Linked DNA regions of Homo sapiens. The protein of the gene in region 1 interacts with the protein of each later gene in a pairwise test. Each region holds a gene or a part of one and is shown in the gene's direction. Other genes may lie near its edges. The genes, in order: CHRDL2, FAH and SLIT1.

Region 1 (10,194 bases):
GGCTCACTGCAAACTCTGCCTCCCAAGTTCAAGTGATTCTCGTGCGTCAGCCTCCCGAGTAGCTGGGATTATAGGCATGCACCACCACGCCCGGCTAATTTTTGTATTTTTAGTAGAAACGGGTTTTACCATGTTGTCCAGGCTGGTCTCAAACACCTGACCTCAAACAATCTGCCCGCCTTGGCATCCCAAAGTGCTGGGATTACAGGTGTGAGCCACCACGCCAGGCCCTCTATTTTATTATATATCATAAATTTAACATCTGAAATCTTCTTGTTCCTACTTGCTTACTTTTTTTTTTCTTTTTCTTTTTTCTTTTTTTTTGAGTTGGAGTCTCGCTCTGTCGCCCAGGCTGGAGTGCCATGTCGTAATCTCGGCTCACTGTAACCTCTGCCTCCCAGGTTCAAGCAATACTTCTGCCTCAGCCTCCCAAGTAGCTGGGATTACAGGCACACCACTACTGCCCGGCTAATTTTTGTATTTTTAGTAGAGACGGGGTTTTGCCATGTTGGCCAGGCTGGTCTCAAACTCCTGACCTCAAGTGATCCTCCCACCTCGGCCTCCCAAAGTGCTGGGATTACAGGCGTGAGCCACTGTGCGTGGTCCTTGCTTACTTCTTTAATAGTCTATCTTTCACTGTTAGGATGTGAGCTCCGGGAGGGCAGAAACCTTGTTGGTCCCACTAATTCCTAGTGCTCAGAAGAAGGCCTGGCACCCAGTAGACCTGCAGCAAGTATTGAGCGTGAATGAGTCCACGTCTACCCACCAGAGGCAGCTCAGCATCGTGGAAAGTACACGGGCCCTGGTGACAGTTTTTACATGCTTTGTGATCTCAGGCAACTTAACCTTTCAAGGCTCTTTTCTCATTTAGAAAGTGTGACTAATAGTATAGTATCTACCTCTAGGGGTGTTGAGAAGACGAAGTGGGATGATTTTTATATAACGTAAAGGCCCTACCTCAGTAGCCACTCAATAAATGGAGGCTATGACTTTCCTGAGAAGTTCCCTGTGACTGCAAAGGGCTTTTCCAGGTGCCTCACCTGCCCTTTCACCGCTAACCTGTCTCCATCCTGTTTCCTGCTTCGTGGTGCTAATAATCATCGCCATCCTTGGCTCCTTCGAGGCCAGAATCAAGAGACCGATTCTAACTCTTCAGGCCACACAGTCCCTTGCACTCCATCCTAGTTTCTCATCTGGGAACCTCAGATGTCTAGTGTCTGGTTTATCCTCTAGACATTTATTAAGCACCCATGTGCGTTGGGCCTCTAGAAGGCCCCTATTAGAGCTCAGACCAATTCTGTGGACTCTGGGATTCCCCTTAACACTGACTAGTTCTCGCGATTACCTCTGGCCATCTTGGGAAGCAGTGACCCCAGAAGGCGTAGGGCCAGTCAAGGGTCTTCCATGGGGCAAGAGGCTGCCTCTGGGAGAAGTGCTATCAGGGAACTCAGGTCCAGGGAGAGGGCAGGAGGAAGGAACCAGGGGGAGAAGCGGGGCTAGAAACAAACTTCGCCAACTTCAGAATTGTGAACAAAGCGGGCTTCCTTCATCTAGGAGAGGACCATCAACCCCTCCTTTCCTTACTCTCATTTATTCACTCACTCATGCATCCATTCAGACTCCAGCAGCCACTAACTTGGAGCAAGGCCCCATTCTTTGGAATTCGTGGTTGAATCGGTGACACAGGTGTAAATGGTTCATCACAATGCAGCAGAGTGACCCTTGTAACAGAGTGAAGAACAAGGTGCGGGAAGGCTGAGGGGCCAAAAAAAAAACTGCCTGGAGAGCTGGGAAGACCCCCACGAGGGGTGGTGGCCACTCTGCCTCGGTTTCTGCTTGTCTCTCTCTGCGTATGTTCGCCTGCCCAATTCTCTCGCTTGCTATGCTTAAAAAAGAGAAGGAACTTCAGGCCCCTCCTTCTCTGGTGCCAACTCCAAAGGCTTTGTCCAGGATTACCCAAACCTCCCAGAGATTTAGGGGGTGGATCATAAAGCCATCCGTCTTCTCCACATGAGGTTTTCAGTCTCACACCCCCTCCCAGTCACCTGTCCTCATGTTTCATTCCTTTCTTGACCACAAGGCTCAGGCCCAGAGTTAAAAGGACCAAGCCCTAGAGTTAAAATAGTGCAGTCAAAGCATCAAGATCAATGTCAAACAACTCTAGGCTTACATGTCTTTCTCTGGGAAGGGGACAGTGTTTAAGCAAGTCCATGACCAGAACTGACCTCCTTCAGGGTAGGGGAGGCACATGGATATGTGGGCCAAGTGAGATCCCCTTGGTGGGCAGGAATGGGGAGGAACCGGGCACACTTAATTGTTTTCAGTCCAATCACAGGCTTACGACAAGTTCAGACTTCTGCAGTTGGGGTGGGAGTTTTGGGAAAGGACAGGTACAGGTGGAAGACGATGGTTCTTTGAACCAGGGCTGACCCTTGTGTCCCCTTCAGGGCGCCCATGTGAGTTGTTACCGCCTCCACTGTCCGCCTGTCCACTGCCCCCAGCCTGTGACGGAGCCACAGCAATGCTGTCCCAAGTGTGTGGGTAAGTAGCCATGCTCCTCCCCATCGTCCATGGACCTTTCTCCTACTCCCAGTGTAGCCCTCTAGCTGAGGGAGACCCCTGCAAGGAGAGGGGCAGTCTCTACCCATCAGAGGTGTAGACACACAAAGGTGCTCAAGGGAGGAAATATCCCAGATCCCCAGGCAGTGCTGGGGTAGCAGAGACTTCATGTCCTTAAGTAGGTGTGCATGGCAGGGGAGGGAGGACATGCAGAAAGGAGCTGCAGGAAACAGGGCCTTGCTTGGGCTGCTGACTGGCACACTTAGGCTCCAGTCTCCCTTGGGCCTTCCAGAGCTGGAGGGTGTGGGCGCAGTCTGGGAAGTGAAGGTGAGTGATCTTGGGCTTGAAGGTCCTAAGGGGAGACCCCAGAATTACCACTGGGGGAGCTCAGAAGGACTAAAGGAGTCAGGCCCTGTTCTCTGAGATTCCTCCCACTGCTGAGATTCAGGGACTCTATGTGTCCTGATGCTAAATGTCTATGATTCCATGATTTTAAGATTCTAAGAGCCTCTGAGAATAAGATTCTAGGAAGAAGAAGTCAGAGAAAGGAGAGGTGGTCTAGGAAGAAACTGGCAAAACCAAGTGTCCAGTGAGGGGCAGCCAGAGGGGAGGCCAACTTGGAGGTGGGAGGGGAGGTTGAGAGGAAAATTGATGTTTAGAAGCATCAAGAAAGTGGTGAAGAAGAGGCTCCAGATTTTGGCCTCGGGTCGGGGCTCTGGAATCAGGACTTTCCTGGTGAGCTGGTATGGAGTGGGGCTCATTTTCCAGGGGGGAGCCCAGTAGGGATCTGACTCGTGGCCCCTACATGGGTCATAGAGATTCCTGGCTGTGGGTCCCCGGGGGGACAGTGGCTCTCAGCTTCATCCTGCACAGTGAGGGAGTGTCCTCATGTCTGATGCCGACTCTGGGGGGCCTCACCTCTCCTTGCTGACTTTGGGATTTTCCCCTGTGCTTGGCCCAGGCCTCTTGTTGCTAAAACACTCTTCACTCCCTCTCTCTTCCCATCCCCTGCCCCTGTGCCTGCTTGGCTCCACAGTTCTTCAAGACTCTGCTCACCGTTGCCATGCCATCGGCCCTTCAGGAAGCCTTCCCTGGCCATTCCTCCCCGGCTGAGTTAGAGGCTCCTCCTCTCTGCTGTCACAACTTCTGTGCTTCCATCCACCCTAGCCCTCACCTGCTACAGCATCATTGCTTGTGGCTTGTCTTTCTGCCTAATTAGATTTCAAACTTCTTTTTTAAAAATTAAAAAAAAAGTTCTGGCCAGTCACGGTGGCTTGTATCTGTAATCCCAGCACTTTGGGAGGCCGAGGCGGGCGGATCACAAGGTCAAGAGATTGAGACCATCCTGGCCAACATGGTGAAACGCCATCTCTACTAAAAATACAAAAAAATTAGCTGGATATGGTGGCATGTGCCTGCAGTCCCAGCTACTCAGGAGGCTGAGGCAGGAGAATTGCTTGAAGCTGGGAGGTGGAGGTTGCAGTGAGCTGAGATCGTGCCACTGCACTCCAGCCTGGTGACAGAGCAGGACCCTCTCTCAAAAAAAAAAGAAAAAAAGGAAAAAAAATTTAAAAAATGTTGCCCAGGCCAGTCTCGAACTCCTAGAGTCAAGTGATCCTCCCACCTCAGCCTCCCAAAGTGCTGGGATTATAGGCGTGAGCCACCTCACCCGTAATTTTTGAGTCTGAGTTTCTTGGTGGCAAGGGCTAAATCTTACTCATTGCTCCATTCCCAATGCCTAGCATGGTGCGTAGAACAGAGGAGTGCTTAGTCAAGGGGTCTTGAATGAATGAGTGGGCTCTCTCAGGACCAGAGGCTTACCCCTCCACCTGGCAGGATGAGGACGGACTGATGGGCAGGTGATGGGGAGGGGGGCTCTGGGGGCCAGTGAATGACAGGAGTTTACCCAAGCACAGGGACAATCATGCCAGCTGGCACCACTAGAATGTAACCCTGTGAGGGCAGGGACTCTTTTGCTCACTGCTGTATCCCCAGCACCTAGAACAGTGCCTGGCACTGAGAAGTGCTCCATGAACCCTCATTAAATGCTGGATGAACTAACTCGGGCCCCACTGAGCGGAAGCTGAGGCTGCCGGCTTTACCTTCTTGCTCTGGTTGGGGCTGGCCCAGACACTGAGGGGGCTGGAGGGCTGTGGTAGAGGTCATGGGAGGGAGGGACTCAGTCAGATGTAGGTATCAGAGGGACCTCTTAGTTAGCTGATAAGGGGAATGGCTGGCAAGGCCCAGGCCAGAGCTTGGTTTAAATATCAAGCTGGGGTCAAATGCAAAATCATCAGAAAAGTGGCCTTGTTAATTTCAGCAAAGATTCACATGAAACCTCATTTTCTTCTTCCTCCTGCCCCTCCCCCACTGCAGAACCTCACACTCCCTCTGGACTCCGGGCCCCACCAAAGTCCTGCCAGCACAACGGGACCATGTACCAACACGGAGAGATCTTCAGTGCCCATGAGCTGTTCCCCTCCCGCCTGCCCAACCAGTGTGTCCTCTGCAGCTGCACAGTAAGAACTCCTGCCTTCCCTTCAGCACAGGCCAGCGCTCTGGGCCTGCAAAGAACATAGTAGCCTGGACTGCGGACTGGGGGGATTGTTCCTCCTGGCCAAAGCAAAATGAATGGGCTCAGGGGAAAGGGAATATCTGGGGTTTGGAATGTCCTGTCCCTAGCTGGGTCAGGTGACCATTCTCTGAGCTTCCACACCTTCCTGAGCCTTCTGTTTCCCCCAGTAGACGCTGCATTCCTTGAGGGGAGGAAACATATGTTTTTCATTTCTTTATCCTCTGCTGTCAGTCCAGGGCCTAAAGCACAAAAGACATCTGTAATGATTATTGAATGAGAGAATGAATACGCAAATGATCAGTTATCAGTCCTGGGGGACAGAGACAGGGCCAGATTATCTGTAGCAAATGGAAATTAATCTGAAGCTACTTAAACTCCTCCTGCCTATTGTTAGAGCTGGACCTCCGGGCAGGCAGGGCTGACTCGGCAGTGTTATCATGGGACAGAGACTGAAGCTAAGCAGGGCCTCCTCTGGAAAGTCTTCAGCCTCCTCCTTGTAAGGGAACTGGGGTGTAGGCATGGCCTTCCTATAGGTTTGCAGGTGGCTTTCCGCGTGTCATTTTTTTTTTTTTTTTTTGAGACGGAGTCTTGCTCTTTCACCCAGGCCGGAGTGTAGTGGCGTGATCTCGGCTCACTGCAAGCTCCGCCTCCCGGGTTCATGCCATTCTCCTGCCTCAGACTCCCGAGTAGCTGGGACTACAGGCGCCCACCACCACGCCCAGCTAATTTTTTGTATTTTTAGTAGAGTCGGGGTTTCACCGTGTTAGCCAGGATGGTCTCGATCTCCTGACCTCGTGATCTGCCCGCCTCGGCCTCCCAAAGTGCTGGGATTACAGGCGTGAGCCACCGCGCCCAGCCCAGCATGTCATTTTTAACCCTGGGCTTGGCAACTCATCCGTGAATTGGCAGGAGAAGTCCCTGCCCTCCCGATTTATTTACTACCTGATCACCACACTTGGGCCTCAGTTCCTCTGAGTGCGTAAGGGAGTCTGACCAAGTGATCATTAATGTTCTCTCCAGACTAGTATCAGAAACCTGTGTTTGATCTCCAGCACTGTCCCAGTTCCCTGTGTGACCTCAAACAAGTCACTTCTTTTGGGCCTGCCTCCCTATCTTTTCAGTGACAGGGTCCCATCAGTCTGAGTCTTTGAATCTTAAAGTTTCTGTGCTGCAGAGCAAACAGCCTGCAAATAATGAGGAGTGACTACTTATAAATCAACCTAGTAAGCAATTACCTTTTGCAGGGTGTGAGCCTTTTGCAGTGGTCTAGTCTGTTGTGTCACCAGGTTCATAGAAATGCCTGGTTTATAGACAGTACCCGAATGACCCTAGGAGAAGGATATCACTATTTCTGTTTTCCAGATGAGGAAACGGGCTCAGAATAGTTAAGTGACTTGCCTGAGATCACACAGCTAGTAAGTGACAGAGCCAGAATTCAGACCCAAGGCCACCTGGCTCCAAAGCCAATGTTCTTTTCCCTGTGTCCTGCTGCCTCCCCTGAAGGGATGAGGCCTGGATGAGGAGGGGGCTGTGGCGAGAGACAGAAATGCTGGGTGGTGGGTGGTGAGAGCATTCCCAGGATTCCTCTGTTCATTCTCCCTGGGTACTTGGGCCTCCCCTTCTTCCTTCTCATCCCTGATTATATGAGGCTGGCTTTTCTTCTGGCCTCACCCGAGGGACCGGAACACTCACTTCTCAGACCCTCTGGAAAGGGAACAGGGAAAGGTCTCAGGGCAATAGTGCTTCCCCCCAGGCACGTTGTGCCTTGTGCTTTTCACAGCCATTCCCTCACTGGATCTTCACACCCCAAATGGGTGTGACCCCACTTCACAGAGGAGGAATCTCAGGCCCAGAGGAAAGAAGTGACCACCAATGGTCACCTGGCCCCTGACCCCCAGAAGGCCCCTTCCCCTGCAGTCTTGCCTTTCAAGGCTGGATCCCAAAGTTGGAAACCAAGGGCTTTCAGTAAAGAGCAAGATGAGCCCAGGTATCACCCACCTGTCCCCCTCCCATGATGTTGATTTCAGTGGGAAAAGCTTGAAGACTGGGCCCCAACTGTCTTTCTAACCTGAGATGGCTCAGGCCCCGCTCCGGCTCCTCATTTGTAGGATAGGGAGATTCCCGCCTTACCAGGCAGCAGCTAGGGACAGCCTGGCTGTGAGTGAGTCAGAAGCTGAAGGCTGGATGTTACCTGCAGGGCCTGGAAGTGGGGCTGGGAGGGCACGGGGGACCCCTCCTCTGAGCTGGCCGGGCCTTGCTGTGGAGATGCTGTTGCTTCCCCTCCCCACCATAGGAGAGACCTCAAGGCCATTTGCTCCCAGGGAAGGGGGTGTTCCTAGCCCCCAAGGCTAGCCCTTATCAGAGCTCATTTCCCAGCTGGTTTGCTCTATCTGTCAGGAGGGCCAGATCTACTGCGGCCTCACAACCTGCCCCGAACCAGGCTGCCCAGCACCCCTCCCGCTGCCAGACTCCTGCTGCCAGGCCTGCAAAGGTGAGTCTGTCCCTCCATCTGGCAGCACTCACCCACCCCTCCACTCCATGGGCCTAGCCATGGACTGTGAGAGCCGTGAGGAACTGCAGGTGACACCCAGCATGTAGCAGACGGCTCTTTCCTCCAGGGTGTGGCTTAGCCTGCACCCCCCAGAAAGCAGAGCCTGGCAGAAGCTGATGTGTTACTTATTTTTATTGCAGTCATTGGGGGAGGAAAGAGGGAAAGGCAGAGTGAAGAAGGTAAAGAGAGAGAAGCAATACAGGAATATGTCCAGGGGCTGGCCTCTGCTTGCTAACCAAGCAAAAGTGACCTATTGCTCTAAGTAGTCTCTGCTTCTCAGAAAAGTCTGGGCGTGGTAGAGGAAGCAGTAAGAATGTGTCCACCAGCCACCAACTATCTCTCCATTGAGCCCAAAGCTCATCCATGTGTGGGACTTCCCTGCTGTGCATGCATGGGTGGGTGCTAAGTAGCCCTGGGAGCAGAGGCAGGAGTGGGCTGGGGTAAGGAGTGGGCGCAGGGGATGTGGACAGGAGCTGCGGGCTTGAGGGAGGGGCACTGTGAGGCTGAGCCTGAGGGAAGTGTTGGGGAGCCCGTGCAGGGGGGCTGCTGCTGCAGTGCCTGCCATGGGGGGACAAAGTCCCTGCAAGCAGATGAGCTGAGAGAACCATAAGTGGCACGTGAGAGGGGTCTAGTACAGGTAAGGACTACGTCTCATCCTGCCTTCCTGACGGCAGAGCTGGTCACAGTATTGGGCTCACCAGGGCTCAGAACATGTCTTTTATACAGAACCCAGGTAGAACCTCTTATAAAGCAGGGAGGCAACACATCAGCTAGCAAAGGGCAGGCTAAGCGTGAGCAGAATGAAATGGTCGGACTGTTCCCTGCAGGCTGAGGTAGTCAAGGAAAGCCTCCTGGAGGAGGTGGCACTCAGGTAGGGGAGTGCTCCACAGTGGATGCATCCCCAGATGTTTGCATTTTGGAAGGAGCACTGGACTAGGAATCAGGTGACTCCAGTTTAGTCCTGGTTCTTCCAGCTAACTCCATAAATTCCTTCCCTTCTCTGGGCCTCAGTTGTGCCCTGTGATTTCTAACACAGTCTAATTCCAATGTTCTGGGTCTTTGAAACGGGAATGATTGGTGGGAATCAGACTGTGGAGTGAGGCAAGAGATAGGGAGAGAGAGGCCCACTCGGGTTTAGGAAGCTGCAGGGCTCCAAACGGCTTTGTGTGCTGGTTTCCCAGGGGAATAGGGACTGGCAGGGTGCTCAGGCTGGAGGGGCGAAGGGGCTGGAGTGTAGGGTCCTGGGAGTGTAAACCAAGGCCTGCTGACTTCAAGTGTGGCTGCCCAGGAAACTGCATCTATGCAGGCTGCAGGGATGGGATTCTGGGCCTTTGGGCCATCCATGGTAAATACTGAAAGGTATGGCCCAGTGTCCCAGAGAGGTGAGTTTCAGTAAGGACCAAACAAGATGCTCTGTTTCAAGGACTTCAGTCCTAATGGTTACCAGGAGGTCAGTACAGGGAAACTGAGGCAGCAACCCAGTTGTAGGGGACTTCATCAACCCAACCAGGATGAAGAGAGGCTGTAATGGGAAGTGGAAGAAGTCCCCACTGGGGCAAAGGAGCTGGCTAGTGGGCTGGGGCTGCAGATGGGACAGCAGGCCTTGGGAATGGACAGAGCCTATAGGTGGAGGCCTCAGGGCTCTAGCCAGCAAGGCTGGGGAGCCTGAGGCTGACCCAGCTTCCCTTTGAGTTTTCAGATGAGGCAAGTGAGCAATCGGATGAAGAGGACAGTGTGCAGTCGCTCCATGGGGTGGTGAGTGCACGGCCTTATTGACGGGGTGCGGGACAGGGGGCTGGGATCCAGGGCCTAAATCTCGTGACTCTGGGGCAGGCAATACCAGTTATTGTCCTCATTTCTTGTTTGTCCCCTGGGTTGGCTACATGAACATCCACTATATTCCAGCCCCTCTCCCTAGCCTCCCATCATGGGTCCCATCATGGTTGATGGATAAGGAGTGGCCTGGGGGAAACAGGTCACCACGCAGGGCAGCAGCAGGCCCCAAACTTCCTCACTTTCCTCTTGAGAAACACTTTGACACTGTTCCATCTACAGCCTGTGTCTCCCCTTAATTCAGGCAACCTTCTTCCCAGGGAATGGCCTCTAACTTGGGCCAGCCTTCCCCACCCAGTTCCTGAGGTACTGGCTCTTTAGAGCCTGCCTCTCTGTACCCCCCTGTATCTTGGCCCCTCTCAAGCTTGGTCTAGGTTAAGATGGGCTTAGCTGGACAGCTGTCTCTGATCTGAGAGGAAGGAGATAGAGAATCACACATTGATTCAAGTCCCTGATGGGTCCTCTCTGCTATGTCTGCCACATGAACAACTCCACCTGCTATTTCAGCCTGGGTCTCCTGGTCTCCGGGAGACTAGAGGCTGCCTCCCCTTCCCAGAGATTCCCCAGAAGCCTGAGCCCATGTCCACACCCTTCTCCTCTGCCAGCTCATCCTGCTGCCCTCCCCACCCAGGCAAGGCCTTCTCAGGTGGGGGCCTGAGACCTGAGAGCTGAGGGT
Region 2 (10,353 bases), on another chromosome or scaffold:
ACAGGCAACAAAAGCAAATACAGACAGATGCGATTATATCAGGCTAAAAAGCTTCTGTATAGCCAAGGAAACAATCGACAAGAAAAAACCTAGGAAGTGGGAGAAAACATTTGCAAACCACACATCTGATATGGAATTAGAATCTAAAATAAATAATGAAGTCAAACAACTCAATAGCAAGAAAACAAGTAACCTAATTCTTAAAAAATGAGTAATGGATATGAATAGACATTTCCCAAAAGACATAAAAATGGCCAACAGGTATGTGAAAAAATGCTCAACATCATTATCAGAAAAATGCAAAATAAAACCACGATGAGATATCATCTCACACCTGTTAGAATGGCTATTATCAAAAAAACAAAAGACAGCAAGTATTGCAGAGGCTGTGGAAAACAGGGAACCCTTGTACTTTGTTGGTGGGAATGTAAATTAGTACCGCCATTATGGACAACATAGGGGTTCCTCAAAAAATTAAAACTAGCGCCACCATATAATTCAGCAATCCCTCTGCTAAGTATATATCCAAAGGATATGAAATCAGTATGTCATAGAGATACCTGCACCTCCATGTTCATTGTAGCATTATTCACAATAGCCAAGATATGAAATCAAACTGAGTGTCCATCAGCAGATGAATGGATAAACAAAAGGTTTGTATACACAATGGAATACTATTCAGCCATAAAAAGAAATCCTGTCATTTATGACAACATGGATGAAGCTGGAAGACATTATATTAAATGAAATAAGCCAGATGCAGAACAACAAATACTGCATGATCTCACTTACATGTGGAATCCCAGAAAAAGTTGAAGTCAGAAGTAGAATAGAATGATGGTTACCAGGGGGTAAGGGCTGGGAGGTTGGGGAGATATTGGTTAAAGCCCACAAAATTTCAGATAGGAGGAATAAGTTCAAGAGATCTATTGGAAAATATGCTGACTATAATTAATAACCGTATTTTTTTTTTTTTTAGTCCAACTGAGTCTTGCTCTGTTGCCCAGGCTGGAGTGCGGTGGCGCAATCTCAGCTCACTGCAACCTCCACCTCCCGGGTTCAAGTGATTCTCCTGCCTCAGCCTCCCGAGTAGCTGGGACTACAGGCACGTGCCACCACACCCAGCTAATCTTTGTATTTTTAGTAGAGAGGGGGTTTCACCGTGTTAGCAAGGATGGTCTCGATCTCCTGACTTTGTGATCCACCCGCCTTGGCCTCCCAAAGTGCTGGGATTACAGGCGTGAGCCACCACGCCTGGCCTTATTATATTCTTGAAAATTGCCAAGAGAGTAGATTTCAAATGTTCTCAGGACAAAAAAAATGAAAAGTGAGGTAATGTTTATGTTAAGTAGCTCAACTTAGCCATTGTGCAATGTGTACCTATTTCAGAATGACATGTTTTACATGATAAATATGTATAATTTTTATTTGTCAGCTAAAAAAGTAAAAAAGAATTCTCCAGGTGTTGTCCCAGACAGCCGCTGAGATGTGGAACACATCTGACAACAACAATCAGAATCCTGGTGAGGAGGGAGGGCAGGACAGAATGCTCTCACACAGGATGTTCTTAGACAGAGTCAATCTACTTCTCATGTTGCATGTTATACTTTTATGTACATTAGTGATGGGGAGGTAAGGAAGAGGAAAACAGGATTGCTGACATTTATTGAGAACTTTCTGTGTGTCCCACAATATGCTGAGAGTTTTTGCAGGGGTTTTCTTATTTGATCTTCTAAACAACCTTACAAGGCAGGTATCGTTTTTATTATTTCATTTTTCCAATGCATGAAATTAAGATTTGGTGAGGTACAGTAACCTAAACCCAAACTCAATATGAACGTTCTAGAAAGAGATTTCAAATCTTTCTTATTTGAAACCTTAACATATATATTCTTACAGCTGGGTGCAGGGGCTCACGCCTGTAATCCCAGCAACTTGGGAGGCTGAGGTGGGCAGATCACGAGGTCAGGAGTTCAAGACGAGCCTGACCAACATGGTGAAACCCCATCTCTACCAAAAATACAAAAATTAGCCAGGTGTGGTGGTGTGAGCCTGTAATCCCAGCTAGTTGGGAGGCTGAGGCAGGAGAATCACTTGAACCTGGGAGGTGGAGGTTGCCGTGAACCGAGATCGTGCTACTGCACTCCAGCCTGGGCAACAGAGCGAGACTTTGTCTCAAAACAAAACAAAACAAAACAAAACAAAACATAACAAAAAACAAACCAACAACAACAACAACAGACATATATATTCTGTTACCACATACTGTTTCCTTTTGTTCAACATCTAGGGAAAGGGCCACAAGGAAAAATCATGCCTAACCAACTTTAGTGTGTGTGTGTGTGTGTGTGTGTGTGTGTGTGTGTGTGTGACAGAGAGAGAGAGAGAGAGAGAGAAAGAGAGAGCGAAAGAGAGACAGGGAAATTTTAGTGTGGATTTATTGTTGACAAACTAAACAATGTTTGCAGAGAGAGGCACTGAGAATGATCTATTCAGCTGTGCCAAACAGGTTGAATACAGAGGTTGTAACTTATGTGTCAACATTCCTCTGTATTTCTGGGAGCAGAGTGGGATCCACAGCTATAGCTCAAAAAGGCACCGAACATTTGGATGGGAAAAAAGGGATAATTCAGATGGGAAAACTATTGAATATGTATTTAGTTATAAGAAAACAAAACAAAATTAGAAGTATTTTGTTGAAATAACAGTGAGGGAGAGTCTAAAAAGTGGCTCCTGCTTTGATAATGGTAACAGAGAACTCATTATATGGTACACATTATTAAGTCAGATGGCAATGACATGTTCTTTATTTAAGGTGCTGCTTGTTATTTGTGAGTCTTGCAAATCCAGCTTAAATCCAAAATGGATTTGAGGTAGTATTCCATCAGAACATAGACACAATAGTACCTGAAACAGACTAAAGACAGAATTAAAGAGGGCAGGAAGAAGAAAATTTATATTGCAGAAAACCTAGCCCTGGTTGAGCTGGTTCACCTAGGACTTCATCCAATCCCCTTCTCCCCACCCTACAACATGCACTTGCACTTGAATTACTTACGTTCAGTTCCAAGATCCTCTAAATTTTGAACTCCTTTGAGAGGACAGAATGTCATGTATATTTGCACATGACATATATTCTTGATACTAAAATGTACTGGACACATGCCAAACCCATGATGCCCACTACAAAATGTGTACCATAAACATCACTGAGCTCAGACCTGAAAAAGAGAGGACACTTACTTTGCTAAAGTGCTTGGCCTTTGACATAGTTTCCTCTTTTTCTTGACGACCATGCAGCAGTGCTGAATGTTGCAAAAAAGGCCACCCCATCCTGCTTCCCAGTGCAGGCAGCGTCCACACCTTGCTTATCTGAATGGCAACTGCCAGCTTCTCAGAGCCGTTGCAAGACATTAGTGTCCTGGATCTGGAAAGTTCTCTCTCAGCTCTCTTGTAAAGGAGTGAGGGACATGCTTTGTGTGAATGAGGGCTGCAGTGCAGTGTGTTGCTTTTTAGCATCAGAGGGAGGCATTAAATATGGTGCTACAGAGACCCAAACCAGCCTTCATTGCTGGAGATGCTGAAACTCACTGCGAGTCCTGAAAGTGTTCATACTCTTTGAGTCAGGAATCTTCCTTAGATAATTGTCAAGGAAAAGGAAAACATTCTGTGCATGCACCTCTTCATTGAACCGTTATTATTACCATCTAAAACATTGCGACTTCCTTAGCTAATGACAATGATCATAATAAAGCCTATTGGGCCTCAAGGAAAAATATTCAAGAGAATAAGGTAGGGAAAGACTGAAAAATTGCATCTATGTAAAGTTTATAAGGATGGAAAAGCCATGTGCATACAAATGGAATGAAAAAAAAACATGAAAATGAGAAGACTACATTGGTGGGATTATGGGCAATCTCTTTGTTTTAAAATTCTTTTTAAATAATTGTTGTGATATACGTGGCCAACACATTCTCTTCCAAAAAATGAGAAAGAAAAAATATAGTATACTTGCAAGTTATTTCAAATGCTGTTTTCCAAATAGAGAACAGCTTTGGCGTTTTCAGACACTGTGTATAATTAGTGGGTTGGTTAAGTCTATTTTAAAACTATGAAATCTTACTCCCTCTTTAGCCATCTCATCCCCACACCCTTTCCTACACATACATCTGCCCCATGTCCTTTCCCTAAAATACTTTGGTTTTCTTTCTCCAAGGGTTTTATCATTTAGGCTTTTGTTAACTTGTATGTATTCAGTAGAAGCTCCTGGCCTAGCATCCCCCACACAACACATGCTCCATAAAAACAGGAATTAAAGATGTGAGTTGCTGGTGTATCCCCATGGCCTGGCATAGGGCATGGGCTTATTAGTTATTGCTTCATTTCCTTTTGGTCAACAGTTTTATATTAATGACATGTATTTATGGAGAACCTATTCTGTGCCAGGTGTTTTGCTGGGTATTGACAGAGTTGCACATGGAATAAGAAAGCTCGTGGTTTTAATGGGAAGGGGCAGGGCAACTACAGAACGTGGAAATAATTCATTGCGTTGCAGCTGAGGACTAGCTTGAATTAGGCAGGTATCAAGTGCTCCCTGGAATGCCTCTTTATAAGGCCACCAAGTTGGGATACTCTCCTCTTCTTTTCCTCTTTCAGGAACCTACCAGAACAAATCAGACCACCTTCATTCCCTCCCCAGGGCTGACTTAAAAGAACTGAAGCCAGTCCTTGGCAGAGCCACTCAGGGCAGGAGATGAGAGCCAAGAGGCTGTGCCCAGATTACACTCCTTACTGGGTGATGATCACTGGTCACGCCTGGTGGACAGGCACCAGAGTGATCTCAGGGGCTAGGAAGGGGGGCTCAACAGCGGGCCCTGCTTGCCGTACTCGCTCCTCTCAAGCCGTCTGGTTTCAAGCCCACTTAGCTCACATTATCCTGCCATCTTCCAGCCTCTTCTCCCTAAGCTGAAATGCGGAGCAGCCTCCCTAACTCAGCAGTCACTGTGTCACATTCCTCAAGGATCTTCAGGGAACCCTTGCCCAGACTATCGTCTACTTTTCTAGATTTCAGCCGGCATCCTGGCTGTTTAAAAGTGTACCTGAATCATTCACACCAACAATAACACAACGACACACTCTCCGGTGTGTTCCAAGTGTCCTGGCTGTGGCATGGTCTCAAAAAACTGCAGCTGACTGCACATGAGTGATTAGATAACACCTTGAACCCACCCTAAGATAGTCTGCCTTTCCCTTCTTTCCTGTCTTCCTTCTTTTCTTTCTCCCTCTCTCTCTTCTCCTATTTCTCTTTTATCTTTCCTTTCCTTTATCCCCCTCCCCTCCTTTCCTCTTTTTCCCTCCCTTCTCTCTCTTTCCACACACACATAACCTGTATATGCCAGGCACTATTCTAGGTGCTTCACAAATATTAATTCATTCCATTCTTATATCAACTTTGTGAAGTAGGAACTATTATCATCAACATTATACAGAGAAGGAAGCTGAGGTAGAGAAAGTTTAAGTAACTTGTCCAAGGTTGAGCATCTTGTCAACGTCATTTTACTACTGGCATGTGAAACAGGTGAGTTATATTTTTTAGAATATTAATTCTCATTAATTGAAGCCTTCCAAACAGGCCTAACTGTCCCCTTCTCTGACATACAAGTGGAAGTGTCATAGCTGGACGGAGCATCATGGTATGAAGGCAGAAAGGACGCGACTGGGTGTTCTTCTGAAGCTCAGGGAGCAGCTCTTGGGGAGAAAGTGTTTCCAGGAAGCGGACAAGAGTTCTGTTGAGCTGAAGAGCAGGGCAGCAGCCGGGGCGAGCGAGGCTGGAGTCATGCAGGGCAGAGCCTTAAATGCTAAGCTGGGGTTTGCTCTCGGTAGGACCAGCTAGCTGCCCCGAGCGGGGGCTGGAACCAGATCTCCCCCACGTGGACTCGCGGACAGGGCGGGGATCAGGACGGGGGCGGGGCCAGGGGAGGGGCGGGGCTCGGGGAGTGAGGCAAGACTGGAGGGCCTGGGACTCTCGGGTACCCGGGCCAGGGGAGGGGCGGGGCTCAGGGAGGGAGGGAGAGACTGGATGACCTGGGGCTTGCAAGGCGGGGCGAGGGGAGGGGCGGGGCGAGGGGAGGGGCGGGGCTCAGGGAGGGAGGGTGAGACTGTGGAGGACCTGGGGCTCGCGGGGTCGGGGCAAGGGGAGGGGCGGGGCTCAGGGAGGGAGGAGAGACTGGAGGACCTGAGGCCCACGGGGGCGGGGCCAGGGGCGGGGCGGGGCTCTGGAAGGGCGGGCGAGACTGTGGAGGACCTGGAGCTGGCGGGGGTCAGGGTAGGGGGGAGGGGCAGGGCTCGGGGTTCGGGGGCGGGGTGTTCACGGTGAGACCAAAAGTCAGGTAGGAGCCTCCGGGGTCCCTGCTGTGTCACCCGGACAGGCCGTGGGGGCGGGCAGGGGGGCGGGGCCGGGCCTGACCACAGCGGCCGAGTTCAGTCCTGCTCTCCGCACGCCACCTTAGGCCCGCAGCCGTGCCGGGTGCTCTTCAGCATGTCCTTCATCCCGGTGGCCGAGGATTCCGACTTCCCCATCCACAACCTGCCCTACGGCGTCTTCTCGACCAGAGGCGACGTGAGCAGTGGGGCTTTGGCGTCCGGGCGCGGGGAGGGAGTGGAGTGGAGTGGAGTGGAGTGGAGTGGAGTGGAGTGGAATGGAGTGGAATGAGGGGCGGGATGGAGGCTTGTGCCATTTTTCTCTTAAGATTCGTTCCGTGAGAGTGCCTATGGGCTCGAGTCCCGCCTCGTAACTTTCTAGCTGTGCACGTTGTTTAACTTTTCAGCCTCATTGTCCGCAGGTTTGCTGAGAATTAAATGCAAAATGAAATGAATCGTGTCACTCTCCCAGACAAGCAGAGCAAGCAGGATTCTGTTACCGGAAGCTGCAGCACACAGGCATGCTGCCTACTCCGAGGTGGTTGCGGTGTGTTTCTCTCGCCCAAGAGGCCAGGTCAGGGCTGGTGGTTCATCTCGCTGGATAGCCCCTAACCCTAGAACCCGGGAAATGATAACCCGGTATGCGTAGCAGGTCAGAGGGGCACGCGCGTTTCTTGGCTTAGAGTTGTGAGATCTAAGATGGCAAGTGTCTCTGCCTATAGCTGAAATTCTTTCAGCTCCTGGTGTGGGCTCCCTGGCATTCCCCTACTGATCAGAAGAAAGAGGGCAGGGAAACAAACTTTGACTAAGTCAGTGTAGTCTGATTGGTAGAAAGAAGTATTTGAAAACTGGGGGTTTATCAGCAAATAGATAATAAGAGGTTCCCTAGGTTGGAAAAGCAGATTCCCTTGGATTTGTTGATGATATTTTTGGCTTAGATTTCTGCTCCCAACTTTAAAGGTAAACTCCTGATTCATCTCTGTAAGCCATAGAACCCCAGAATCAGGAAATGTTTGCTAAACGAGGGGCCTGGCAGTTGGCTTCTTCTTGGAAAGTGGGGTTCCCTCCTTCCCCCATGGCTTGTCATTGGATGCAAGTGGCTGGCCTTTTGTGGGCCTGTCTGCGGTAAGTGCTTTGGTCTAGAAGAGTCAACTTGTGGTTTCACATCTGGCCGGGCTGACCAGATGTTGCAAGGATACAGAAAGTGGACACTCAATCCCCTGGAGGACACAATCTGAGGCACATTAAATCTTAACTTGTGATGGCCAACAACCTTTCTGCAGACAGAGCCCTCCCTCTGCCCTCCTCAAACACTTTGCCCTCGGCAGATGTGTCCTCCCTCACCTTTCCTGGGAGCACAAATCCATTAGACAGAAACATTTGTGAGAGGCAGGCACACCCCAGTAGGGAGCTCTGACTTGCTTTCTCAGGGGAATCGAATTAATATCCGTTAGAGTGTGGCTAGGTGTTTTCAGACACCATGTCCCGCTGTTTCAACATCAGAATGTGCAGGGCAGCCACTACAGATGTCTGGAAGAGAGAGCCCCATTCCGCTGTCCTCTGATACAGTGCTGGGGGTGGAGAGTTGGCCCTTTGGCCTTCCAGCTGAACAAGCCTCTTCTGAAGCTTTCTCTGCAGGCATTGGACATTCCAACCGTGATGGCTGCCTTGCCAGGCAAGACTAGTTGCCAAGGCAAAACCTCCCTTCCCCCATGTCAGCAGTCAGCCTTTCCTAATTTGAGTGGAATAACAATGAATCCTGCCATCACTTTATTCATTTTTTTTTATTCAGCGAATGCTTATGAACCCCAACTCTGGTCCAGATTTTGCCTGGGCTCCGAGTTGGCATCAAAGACACAGGAGACGCCTTCCTTCCATTTCTGGTTGATGGACTAGTAAGGTGTACAGGGGTGCTCTCTGTGAAGGTAGGGGTGGTGGCCTCTGAGAACGGGGTTGTAGTAGTGTGGAGCTGGTTTTGCCGGGTGCCTTGTTAAAGTCCCCGTGGTCTGGCTGTGCTGCTGCCTCCTGGCCTCTGCTTTCTCCAGCCACATTGGCTGCCTTTGAGTCTCTGAGATGTGCTAAGAGCAGCTTCCTGCCTTCAGGCCTTAGCACATGTTGTTCCTTCTGCCTGGAATACTCGTCCTTCTGCTCTCTATATGCTTGGCCCCTTCTCACTCTTTGGGACTCAGCTTAAATGTCACCTCCTAAGCACCCTCTCTGAATGAGCTCCCCGCTGCGGCCCAGCCTTGGTTATCTCTCACCACACCCTGTGTTTCCTTTTGCTTCTGGAGAGAAGGAACCACGTCACTGTTCCCAGGGCCTCAGCAGCCTTTGTGTAATGCTGGTACTGAGAAGATGCTCTCTAAATCTTTGTGGCATGAATAGCGTCTACCCTGTGTCTGTTCTTGTGGTGAGAGATTTACAGATATTAATTAAATTCTCACAATAAACCTACTGTGAAGTTATTGTCCCCATTCTACAGATGAGGAAACTGAGGTCCAGAGAGGCAAAGCATCATGCTCCAGATCTCACAGCCAGTAAGAGGCAGATATGGGGTTGATCCCCACATCTGTCAGCCTCCCAATCTGTAAGGTCCAGCCCTACGGGGCTTAGCGGGTTTTCTCCCTGTGTGCGGAAACGAGAGATTGTAAGAAATAAAGACACAAGACAAAGAGATAAAGAGAGAACAGCTGGGCCCGGGGCACTGCTACCACTGAGACACAGAGACCGGTAGTGGCCCCGAATGGCTGGGCACACTGATATTTATTGCACACAAGACAAGGGGGGCAGGGTAGGGAGGGTGAGTCATCCAAGTGATTGATAAGGTCAAGCAAGTCATGTGATCATGGGACGGGGGCTCTTCCCTCTAAGGTAGCCGAAGCAGAGAGGGAAGGCAGCATAAGTCAGCATTTTCTTCTATGCACTTATAAGAAAGATCAAAGACTTTAAGACTTTCGCTATTTCTTCTACCGCTATCTACTACAAACTTCAAAGAGGAACCAGGAGTACAGGAGGAACATGAAAGTGGACAAGGAGCGTGACCATTGAAGCACAGCACCACAGGGAGGGGTTTAGGCCTCCAGATGACTGCGGGCAGGCCTGGATAATATCCAGCCTCCTACAGGAAGCTGGTGGAGCAGAGTGTTCCCTGACTCCTCCAAGGAAAGGGAGACTCCCTTTTGCGGTCTGCTAAGTAATGGGTGCCTTCCCAGGCACTGGCGTTACCGCTTGACCAAGGAGCGCTCAAGCGGCCCTTATGCGGGTGTGACAGGGCTCACCTCTTGCCTTCTAGGTCACTTCTCAGAATGTCCCTTCAGTACCTGACCCTATACCCACCGGTTATTCCTAGGTTATATTGTACTACAATAAAGAGTAATATTAAAAACTAATGATTAATAATGTTTATACTAATAATCGATAATTGTCCATGATCATCTGTATATCTAATTTGTATTACAACTGTATAGCAGTATAGCTACAGTTTATGCCTTCAGTCTCTTGCCTCGGCACCTGGGTAATCCTTCGCCCACACCAATCCCATGCTTCCCCCTCTATGTCAGGCTGGGAGTTGGGTAATGCTTTCCTTTGGACAACTTTATATCAGATATGACCAACTATTTTAAAACAAAGGCAATGCACATTCATTCTCTTGAAGTTAGACAAATGCGGTCTCCCTCCTTAGTTTGTTTCCCTCAAGTTGCAGATGGGAAACTGAGGCCCAGAGACTTGTCCAAGGTGATAAGATGGTGAATGAGGGAGCAGACTTGGAGCCCAGGAATCCTGGATCTGACCTGTGAGCCCCCTCTAGTTTTGTGCTGAAGAAAATAACTCCCAAGGTTGAAAGTAGAGGGACTCACTCTCTCAGACTTTTTCTGGGTCCTCAGGTCATAGTTTGAAGCACAAGTTTGAAGCTTCTAGGCTTTGTTTGCATTT
Region 3 (10,825 bases), on another chromosome or scaffold:
TTCTATTTTTCTTATTAGTTATTATTGTTAATCTCTTACTGTGCCTAATGTATAAATTAAACTTTATCAAGGGTATGTAGGTATAGGAAAAACATAATGTAATAGGGTTTGGTACTATCCTTGGTTTAGGCATCCACCTGGGGTCTTAGAATGTATCCCTATGTAGATAAGGGGGGACTACGTAGTAGGAAAATATGATCCATAATGAAGAAGAAAAGTAATCAATCATTTCAAACCCAGAAGTGATACATATAATAGAATTGGTAATGTAGTTATTACAACTATATTCCATATGTACACTAAGGTAGAGGAAAATATAAGCATGTTAAGAAGATACGTGGAAGATTAAAAAAAAAAACCGAAGTAGATTTTCTAGAGATGAAAAGTACAATGTCTGAGATAAAAATTGTACCAGATGGAGCCGGTACGGTGACTCAGGCCTGTAAGCCCAGCTCTTTGGGAGGCTGAGGTGGGCAGATCTCTTGAGATCAGGGGTTCCAGACCAGCCTGGCTAACATGGTGAAACCCGATCTCTACTAAAAATACAAACATTAGCTAGGCACGATGGCACACGCCTGTAGTCCCAGCTACTTGGGAGGCTGAGGCAGGAGAATCGCTTGAACCCGGGAGGCGGAGGTTGCTGTGAGCTGAGATTGTGCCACTGCACTCCAGCCTGGGTGACAGTGAGACTCCATTTCAAAAAAAAAAAAAAAATTACCAGATGGGATTAACAGCAGATTAGATACTGTAGAAGAAAAGATAATGAACACGACAATACACCAGGAGAAACTCACCAAAACGAAAGAGAGAGAGAAACAAGGCTAAAAAAAGGAACAGGGCATCATCCATCCATGGACTATGAGACAACTCCAAATGGCCTAATTATGTATAAATGGGGCCCCCAAAAATGAAGAAAGAGAGGAGGGAACAAAAAAAAGTGAAGAAATAATGGTTGAAAACTTTAAATTTGATGAAAACTGTGAACAAGATACAGGAAACCCAGTGAACCCAAAGCACAGATCTCTTCTATTTCCAGTGCGTGGCTCTCAGCTGGCATGCAATCAATGTCTGATGAATAGATGAATGGTTGCTGTCAGTGCAGGCTGTCTGCCTGCTTTCTGCCTTTCTTTTCCTCCTCTTCTCCCACCCCAGCACCCACTTTGCTTCTCTCTTGCTTCCAGTGCTTCTATTTACCAGAGTTATCTTGGATGCCTATGATGGCCTCTGGGCTATAAACGCCACTTGACCTTTAGTCTAGGAGCTTGTCCTTGCTGTAGGCTTTGCCACTGAGAGCCTCCAACAATTCAGCCTCCTCCAAATTTGACAATAGCCAGGGGTTTAGAGACTAAAGCTAAGATATCATGAGTCCTGCTGGCACAGACTTCCCAGAGACTCCTGTTTTCGTAGTTCCCCTGTGGTGGCAGGGCCAGGAGGAGTGCCCAGGATGGACTGGATGCTGTGTTCTGCCCGGGTGTGTGGCCTCATTCACGGCCCACCTCTGCAGCTCCTTTGCCTTGTGAGGTCAGGCTGGTTGCTTCATTTCTCTGGGCTTCTAACTGTTTACTGGTGCTTGGATTTGATCATTTTTTAATCCCCTTCCAGCTCTGACATCTTGTACTCCCCTGCCACTCTCCCTTGACCATCTTTCTCTTTCACATGCCTCATCCTTGCTAATGGTGTGTGGAACCTGGAGATGAGGAAGGCAGGTGGGCCTCAGATCCATTGTCCCTGCCAGGCTCCTTCCTTCAATGGCTCCCCAGAGTTTTCAGTCTAATTCCAAACTCATAACTCAGCACACCAGGCCTTGATTCTTAGAGCATGGTCTCTGGAATCACCTGCATCAGAATTAGCACCGCCTCTACCCCCCATTCCCAGCTTGCTAACACTGAAGGTTCTGACTGGGAAGATCGGGGGTGGGTCACAGGAATCAGCATGTATGATAAGCACCCCAGGGGGGTTAAAATGTATTGGTAGGGGGAAATTAGCTCCTACCACACAGGGTAAAAAATCCGAACAAAGGCTGGGTGTGGTGGCTTACGCCTGTAATCCCAGCACTTTGGGAGGCTGAGGCGAGAGGATCGCTTGAGCCCCGGAGTTGGAGGCTGCAGTGAGCTATGATTGTGCCACTGTACTCCAGCCTGGGCAACACAGCATGATTCTATCTCAAAAAACAAGCAAAAAACCTCCCAAACAGTAGAAAAGAAACATCTGCTGCAACTTTCTCCTTGCTACCTCCCAAGTCACCTCCCTGGAAGCACCAGGTTCCAGAGACACTGGTTCCAGAGGTGGTGCATTTCCAAGCCCATGCATATATAGACATGTGTTTGAGGACAGGGCCAGGCCAGGTGATGCTGAAAGCCCAGTGAAGCCAGAGAAAGGCTGCACCAGGGCCTCTGGGGTGTGTCCTCATTACCTCTGTAACCTCCATCTGTGCTCCCCACCTGAACCCCCTGCCACAATCCAGCCTTGCTGGACGTGCCCCAGCTCAGCCATTGAGAATGCTGCCCCCAGTCTGTGTGACTTGCCTCAAGTGCTTCTCTTTGCTGAGAGAGCCTTTTTTCCTGTTTTGTTGCCCAGAGAATGCCTATTTATCCTTCAAGACCTAGTTCAAGTGCCTCCTCTTCCAGGGAGCCTTCCAGCCCCACTCTGTGCCCTCATTCTGGGTTCTCTGCAATTCCACATTCGCTGACACCCAAATGAATATGCTTTCCTGCTTCCTGTTTCTGTGCCCCCACCGGACAGTGAGCCCACTGAGGGCCAGGGCCATTCTTGTCCCCTGTTGAATTGCTGAGTTCCAGTACAGCACATGTAGTACACAGATACTCCGTAAGTGGTGTTTATCAGATGTCTACTTAGAAGGCATTCTGTCTCACTTTTCCTTTTTGCAGTTTGGAAATCCATCCCACAATGCTCCTCAGCCTCACCCAGGTTCTCCCGCTTCTTGGTGCTCCAAAAGGGGCTGGTGGCGGTGGGAGAGAGGACTCTGTGCAGAAGCCATAAAGAGAACGCTCTCTTCTTGAGTCACACGGGGGAAGTGGCCCTCAACTCCCAGCACATGTGGCTGAGAGGACTCAGAGGGGACTCACGTCACTGGGCTGGGGAGACTCAACCTCAAATTTCCCTTCCAGGGGGTTGCCCTGCTGGTGGCAGGTGAGCAGGGACAGGCTTGGTGGAGTATTCCTGGCAGAAGCAATGTGCCAGGCCTGCCTCCTCCCCACCCGTGCAGCGGGAGCAGGTGGCCCGGCTGCAGGGAGGGGGTAGGGAGACCCAAGAGAGGGAGGGGCATGGGAGAGGAAATTGAAAAAACAGAGTGGGGCTTGGGGGTGTGCGGCCAGCCAGGCAGTTGTTTAACAAGTAAATGTGCCGGGCACGCTAATGAGCTGCGCTCATTCATGGCGAGCCGCCTCCTGAATTGGGGAGCTGGCCAGGTTCTGGGGTGGAGGAACCAGGGACAGGAGCCAAGCTGGGGAGCTGCCCGCTGCTTGGGCAGGGCCCCCTGTGATGGGCTGCTGGGGGAGTCTTTGTCCTGGGTCTGGGGGGCTCCTTCCTTCCCTCCCTTCAGAGGAAAAGCCAGGCTTTGCCAGGCAGCAGCAACTCAGCCCAGGGCCTGCTTGGGATTCACTGTCCAGGCTGGTCTGGAAGCTTCTAGGGCAGGGGCTGGTTCTCAGGAGCCATAGGCAGGGCTGATCTTGCACCCCTGCTCACTCCCACCCTTCCTCATACCCCTTCACTCTGTCACTCTGAGGACCTAGGGGCATGTCGCCTGGCTAATCAACACTCTCTCCCTTCTCCACATGGGTCTTGGCTTCCAAGGGGCCCTCCGAGGTCCTGGGACCAGGGAGCTACTGCTGGAGCAGAAGGCTGGAGACATCTTCAACAGCCTGAGTGCTGTCTGTGACAGGCCTACTAAGTGCCAGGTGCTGGGGTGTGTGTCTGGGTGAGCGAGTGAGGATGCCAGGGGGTGGGCAGGGGTGTGGAGAAGCAGCTGCAGGTACTAAGAGGGGATAAACAAAGCAGCGGGCATGGAGGAATGTCACTCTGAGGCTGCGGGGAGAGCATGGATAGAGGGGCTGGGGCCCCATGGAGCAGGAGCTGGTGAGCTGCAGGGCAGGGGCAGCCCTCTCAGACTCCGGCCTGGTTTGTGGGAAGCTTCCCTAATATCCCACCACACAGGCACCCCTGAGAAAGCCCTGCCCCCTGAGAAACTGAACTTATGCTCAAGAACCCACTTACCGGATGGAGGTCATGGACAGGGATGTGTGAAAACTTTAAAAGAACTGTCAAAAGCCCATAAAATCAGCCACCTAAATTGTAACATACTGTGCTATGACAGTAGAGAGACTGCAAAATTCTCATCAACATGGAAAAGAAAAGCAAAGAAAACGCCTGAGCCTTGGGTACCTGGTGGGTGATAAGGCTTCAACCTTGTGGAGTCTATCAACCTCCCCTATCCCCACCCTGCCCGACACTCTCCCCACCAAATGCGTCCATGCTGTGTCTGGACCCAGGCCGCTCCTGAGACGGGAGGTGCTTCTCGGGCTACCCAGCTGTGTCCTCTTGCCAAGCAGCCTCACGTCAAGGCCCCGACTGCTGGACACTGCCCCAGCGAGCCACAGCTGTCCTTGGCGTTGAGGAGATCTTTCGTCTTTTCTGGGGTTGAGGAGAATTCTCTCCCCACCTGGATGTCCCGTTCACACCCACGTCCACACATGCCTTACGGTGACGAAGGTCCCTACCCAGCCGGGTGTGAGGCCTGGGTCTGACGGGGCTGGCCTGTGGGGTTCTCTCCCAAGCAGGCCGCCCAGCGCTATGCCAGCCCTCTCTGTCTCCTTTGATGTCAAGATGGAATATTCATTTTCATCTGTTTCCACCTGTCAGAAATGGAGGAACGCTGGTGTGAGTGGAGGAAGACGTTTGCCAGATTTCCAAGTCCCCTTAATGTCTGTCCCTCTCTTCTACAACGGGGGAAGAAGCCCGTGTAACTGTATGGTACAAATACGCCCTGCTGAGCAAGTGTTCCAATCAGAGCCATTCTCATCCTGGGCATGCGGCTAGCTTGTTCCCCTCTGAGAAGTGGGTGCATTGAGGTAGGAAGGAGACTGTACTCCGCCTAGCGCTTTCGTGGACCCTCCCCCCCGACAAAGCTCCATCCTCAAAGTCCAGGCTAAGTAAGGTTGGTGGCTTGAGGATGCTACCTGGGGCACAGGCACAGGGTTTCCCTTAACCAAGAATTGACACAGCGAGTCGGGTGGGGCCGAGAGGCCGCTGCTGCCGTCGGGGGATGGGGGGAAACGGGTCTGACTCCCCGGGAAGGCGTCCAAGCGGCAAAATAAGATCTCCCTCCCACCCTGGACTAGCAGCTGGGGCCGCGGGTGCCGGGGTGCGTGCGTCTAAATGTGCGCATCCTCGCCGTGTGTGTGTGTGTGTGTGTGTGTGTGTGTGTGTGTGTGTGTGTACAGCCAGGACTTGGCGGGTCGAGTCACACCCCCTTCCCTCTTCTCCCATCCCCCGCAGCCCCGTGCCCGCTGACGGCGCCTCGGAGGTTCCACCTTTGAAACTGTAGGCGGCTTGCAGCCGCTGAGTGGTCGTCGGGAGAGGGGGGCTGCGGCGGGGGAGGGCGGGGAGGAGCCTGGCCCTGGATGTGTGCTTTTCGATTGATGGATGACTGCCGGGTGGGAGCGAGCGCGCGGGTGTGTGTGTGATCGTGTGTGTGTGTGTGGTGTGTGCGCAGGGTGCGTGCGCGCGCGGGGCCTGCCCATTTTCCTCCTCGCAGCAGTCAGTTGGGAGCTGGAGGGAGGGAGAGGGAGACGCAGGCGGCGAAACGGCAGAGGAGCCGAGCCCCCTCCGCCCAAGGCGCCCTCCCTCCGTCCGCGCACAGGCGCCGTCGCTTGGAGGAGCAAGGTGCCTCCCAGCCCGCAGGGGCGCCGCGCGCAAGCCCGCGGGCTCTTCGGTGGCTCTGCCCCGGGACTGCACCTGGAGGCGGCCCCGGACGGGGATGGTCAGCGGCTGCTGCCGTCTGGCTCGCGAGCGGGACGCTGTGAGGGCACCATGGCGCTGACTCCCGGGTGGGGGTCCTCGGCGGGGCCGGTCCGGCCGGAGCTCTGGCTGCTGCTGTGGGCAGCCGCGTGGCGCCTGGGTGCCTCGGCGTGCCCCGCCCTCTGCACCTGCACCGGAACCACGGTGGACTGCCACGGCACGGGGCTGCAGGCCATTCCCAAGAATATACCTCGGAACACCGAGCGCCTGTGAGTATGGTCCCCGCCCCTGGCTCCCTGGCTCCGAGGTTGCCCTCCCACCCAGACGCAATTCCGGACTTGGGGGTGGGGGCAGGACCATTGGGGCCCGTCCGGGCTCCGCAGCCCACAGACGGGTCAGTGCCTGCCGGGGTCTTTCCCGAGCCAGGAGCCAGGAGCGCCGTGGTTTCCCCATCCCTGGGATTCAAAGGGCCCTCGGCGGGGTTGTCAGCTTCCGTCCTCACACCTGCACCCTGCACCCTGCACTCCGCACCCTCAGGCCCTCCTCACTGCGCCAGCGCTTTATTCCTCCAGGGTGCCTGCGAACTGGTGTCAGAAAGCCTTCCTTGCACCCAGGAGGGACACTTCCCACACTCGCCAAGCACAATGTCTCCTTTTGGGCACATGGGGCTACGGCCGCGTTCTGAGCCAGCTGCGCAGATTCCCGCTCCCAGAGCTTGCTCCTGACGAAGGGCAGCAGGGTGGGATGGAGGCGAAGTTTCTGGTCTGCCCCTTCTTCTCCATTGTTTGCCCCAGAGCCTTGAGAATTCTTCCCCTGCAGGTGCCACGCGTTGGTCCCCTACTCACCCGCCTCCCTCCACACCCAGCCATCCCCAACACAGGCAGACAATGGGACCTGAGGGCTTTGGGTATGGGGCTTGGGGTATGTAACATTCAGCACCCGAAAAGGGGCAGGTGTGTCTTGGATGGAGAACCCGGTGGATAATGCCAAGAAGTCAGGAGCTTGGAGAGGGGGGCCCAAGGTTAAAGATATTGACCATGACAAGTAATAAAAAAATAGCATTTCTCTTCCCCTGTTCTGTCTCACTTGTGAATTCTTGAGGAAACTTGATCCTTTTCTTTTCTAGACCCAGTAAGCTAGTAGAATGTGTGTGTGTGTGTTTGGGTGTGTTTGAGTGTGTGTATTTACAGACCTTTATACTTTGTTTTCTGTGACTCTCCTGCAGAATGTGTTTCTGTGTGAATTCCTAGTATTAAGGGGCCACCTTAATAGCGTGAGGCCATGAGAGTCCCCGTAATGGGCTGTGTGTGTGTAGATTTTGGTCACATGCAGGGCCTTTGTACTGCTCGCAGAGGTGACTACACCAGGAGATTTTTGAACAGGGCTTTGGAGAAGGCTGCTGGCTCCTTTGAAACCTACCTACTCCTCCTTCCCACACTCCTCGGTGACTGCAGTGGCTCTCAGGAAAGGTGTGCATATTTTGATAACTTTCGAGCACATTTTCATGGCCCCCAGCTGGTCAGAGACAGAAATCTGACCCTGAGGAGAGCTGTCTCCCGAATCAGACTCTGTACCAAGGCCAGCAATTAGTGAGCACACATTTGCCCCAGACTCTTCTTGGCTGCATCTGAAAAATTCCCGTGGAGGTTTTAGAGAATTTGCAATCTAGATGCAATCTAGATGGGAAGTGTGTGTGTGTGTGTGTGTGTGTGTGTGTGTGTGTGTGTGGTGCATGTGTATGTGTGTGTGTGAATGCTTGTGTGTTACAGGGCTGGGGAGAGGTGGTACCAAACTGAGTTTCTGTGGGCAGCGTGTGCATTATCCTGTGTGGACCCAGAGAGGATCTGAGGGTCAGAAATCTGTCCAGAGGACCCCCGCAGTGGCCTGGTCACCCTCCATGCCTGTCCCCTCTGTACCTGCTCCCTGCTCCCCTTGCCTTGTCCACTGGAGTTTCTCCTGAAGCTGCTACCCTGGTTGCAGCCTAGATCTAAGACACATTAGCCCTTCTTCTTTGCTTTTGAATCTTGAGTCTTAAAGTCATCTCCTCCCTCTTTACTCTCTCACCACCTTTAGTGTTTAAGACTTCCATGAACTCTTTAGCTCTTTTGTGATCAGAGTGAGATGAAAATGAAATTTCCTAGTACAGAGGAAAGAGGTGGCATTCTGGGAGCTATACTGCCTGGTTCCCCAGCTCTGTCACCTATTAGCTGTGTGACCTTGGGCAAGTTACTTAACTTCTCTGAACCTTAGTTGCTTTCCATCAGGAAAATGGGGCTGAGGCTACATAAGGTCTCTGGTTCTTGTGAGGATGGAAGATCATGTATGGGAATTGCCTGGTACCTTCTGATGCTCGCTAAACGAGAGCCATTATTATGATAGGATAGGGAGGGGAATCTCATTATTTTAATTCAGCAAATGTTTCGGAGCCAGGAACTGCCCTGGGTGCTGAGGCGTCAGCAGGGAGTGAGCCCATCCCTGTCCTCAAGGGGCACATGGTCTAGAGAACTGGGCAGAGGACCTCTAATGGTGAGCTCTCAGGAGAGGGCCAGGCAGCCTCAGGGAACGGACTGTGGGAACACTGGGGTGAGAAGCCCTTTTCCAGGGTGAAGGGGTTTCTCAGAGGATGGGCCACTTTATCAAGGTTGGTTTGGATTTTGCCAAGCACAGAGGGCAGGCAATCTAGGCAGAGGGAACAGCTGGGCTCCAGGCCCAGCACATTCTGCTGCTTGTCAGGTCATGGGGCCTGCTTTCTTGCAGACGTCTTTTTTTTTTTTTCCTTTTTTGTAGAGATGAGGATCTGGCTATATTGCCCAGGCTGGTCTCAAACTTCTGGGCTCAAGCAATCCTCCTGCCTCCGCCTCCCAAAGTGTTGGGATTACAGGCGTGAGCATAAGCAAAAAGCCAGCAGGTGTGAGTATGAGCCAAAAACCTGCGGGTGTAAGCATGCCTGGCCCGATATGGGCAGATGGACCAGCTTGTCCCTGGGGCTGAAACATGCTCTGGCCAGTGGCCAGTGGGTGGGATGGGACTTGAGGCTGGAAAGAGATGTTGGGAAGGGTCAGGAAGACTTTCTATATGTGAACTTTTCCTCTGGGAACTTCCTAGTTGGAAGCCAGGGGTGAGTTATCCTGGGGAAGTGGAGCAGGTCTGATCTTTGCCATGTGGGCAAAGCTTCCTGGACTGGGAAAGCGCAGGGAGCCCGCCTGTTCTCCAGGCAGCCCGTGAAAGAGCTGCTCAAAGAGGAAAAGAACATCTTGAAAGAGGCCTTGGTGAGAGCCCAGGCAGACTCAAAATAACTGTGGCAAATGCTCTCTCTAATCAATATGAGTGTTGTGCAGTATCAGAGCCTGAAACAGTGGCTTCTTCTGAGGCTGTGAAATTTTTATGGACTGCAGCTGTGCATTTGCCTTTTGTCCTTTGGGCAGTTTCTGCGGCAGCCTGCGAGGCCCAGCAACTTTATGATCATATATTCTATAACTCTGGGTCCAGGCCTGTCCCCCGAAATGGAAAGAAATGGTCATTGGTTTGCTGTGGGGACTTCTGGAAAGAGGTTGGGTAGGCCCCAGAGCTGCTGAGGAAATTGGTTCAGCCAGAGGGGCTGTGGGGCTGGTCAGCTGGGCAGGGAAGGGATGCTAAATAATTCACTGTAATGAACAGTTAAAATACAGAGCCAGGGCTGGGAGAGGTGGCGGAGGCGGCCCGGGAAGCTTCCTTTCTTTGTACTGCCCAGGCGCAGAGAGACCCAGCCATGGTCACCATTAAGTTATTTTTTTCTTCCACAACGACCTTGACTTTCAGTTGGACTTGGTTTTTAATTTAAAAAATCTTTTGAGTGTCCAGGAGAGTGTGACAGGAGAGTGCAGTATGTGTGGACATCGCTGGTTCCCCCAGCCCTGGGCATCCTGGGTATTTGAGGTTTGTGGAAGGTTCCCCTTGTGCAGAGAGGGTAAGTTGTCCGAGGATGGAGGGAGGCAGGCAGGGCCTCTGGGAAGGCCTACTGTTCTCTCTTTGCCTCCAGGCCCAGCACATTCTGCTGCTTGTCTGGTCTTTTTTTTTCCTTTTTTGTAGAGATGGGGATCTAGCTATGTTGCCCAGGCTGGTCTCAAGCTTCTGGGCTCAAGCAATCCTCCTGCCTCAGTCTCCCAAAGTGCTGGGATTACAGGCATGAGCCACCATGCCCAGCCTTGCCGTCCTCCTTATGTGCCCTTCCCTCCTTGCCAGTTCGTCCACCCTGCCCTATCTCCATGCCTGCTGTAGAGGCCTGGGAGGCCCTCTCTAGACTCAACTCCCTGAGCTAGAGGTCCCATTTAACAGGGCTGAGTGGTCACGCATAAGGAAGGCTGCCCAGGGCACCTGAGGCTGATCCTCTGGGGAGCCTGTTTGAAATTCCAAATAATAATTGGATGGTGACCTTGGTAAATGAGGTCAGGGGCCACTGCAGCCACATCTGCCATCAGGGCCCGATTGGATCTGAGCAGGCCACCATGGTCTCCTGCAGCAGAGGCCTGCGCTGTGTAGGGGAGGTGCCTCCCTGCAGGGCAAGAGTCTCCTGCTTGCTTAGGCTTTGGTGTGGTCACTGGCCCACTGGCTTATTGCTGGGCTCTGAATGACTGGTGTTAGGACCCCCGTGCCGTGCCTCTCCCTGCTCTGAGACCCAGTTTCCCCATCTGTAAAACGGGACGACGACAGCTGTGCAGGTTGATAGTGAGGAGTAAGTGAGGCAGCGTGCCACGCTTGGTAAGTGGCTGGTGTTCGCCCTTCTCTCGGCCTCTGGGGCTGATAACACCTACTACCTCAAAGGGCCTGTGCACTCACTCATGCTACAGTTGTGAAAATGCTTTGTGATTCA

The links.
Region 2: the proteins of CHRDL2 (region 1) and FAH interact in binary tests that used the Homo sapiens proteins (3 or more experiments, as listed by UniProt).
Region 3: the proteins of CHRDL2 (region 1) and SLIT1 interact in binary tests that used the Homo sapiens proteins (3 or more experiments, as listed by UniProt).

Annotation. Positions count from the first base shown.
Region 1 is NC_000011.10:74,705,733-74,715,926, reverse strand, and holds part of CHRDL2 (chordin-like protein 2 isoform 2 precursor), read left to right. Parts: intron 1-2,447; coding exon 2,448-2,541; intron 2,542-4,559; exon of another isoform or gene 4,560-4,841; coding exon of another isoform or gene 4,842-4,935; coding exon 4,936-5,078; intron 5,079-7,531; coding exon 7,532-7,625; intron 7,626-9,384; coding exon 9,385-9,440; intron 9,441-10,194. UniProt on the Homo sapiens protein: May inhibit BMPs activity by blocking their interaction with their receptors. Has a negative regulator effect on the cartilage formation/regeneration from immature mesenchymal cells, by preventing or reducing the rate of matrix accumulation.
Region 2 is NC_000015.10:80,146,517-80,156,869, forward strand, and holds the start of FAH (fumarylacetoacetase), read left to right. Parts: upstream 1-6,482; 5' UTR 6,483-6,538; coding exon 6,539-6,619; intron 6,620-10,353.
Region 3 is NC_000010.11:97,180,898-97,191,722, reverse strand, and holds the start of SLIT1 (slit homolog 1 protein precursor), read left to right. Parts: upstream 1-5,763; 5' UTR 5,764-6,048; coding exon 6,049-6,245; intron 6,246-10,825. UniProt on the Homo sapiens protein: Thought to act as molecular guidance cue in cellular migration, and function appears to be mediated by interaction with roundabout homolog receptors.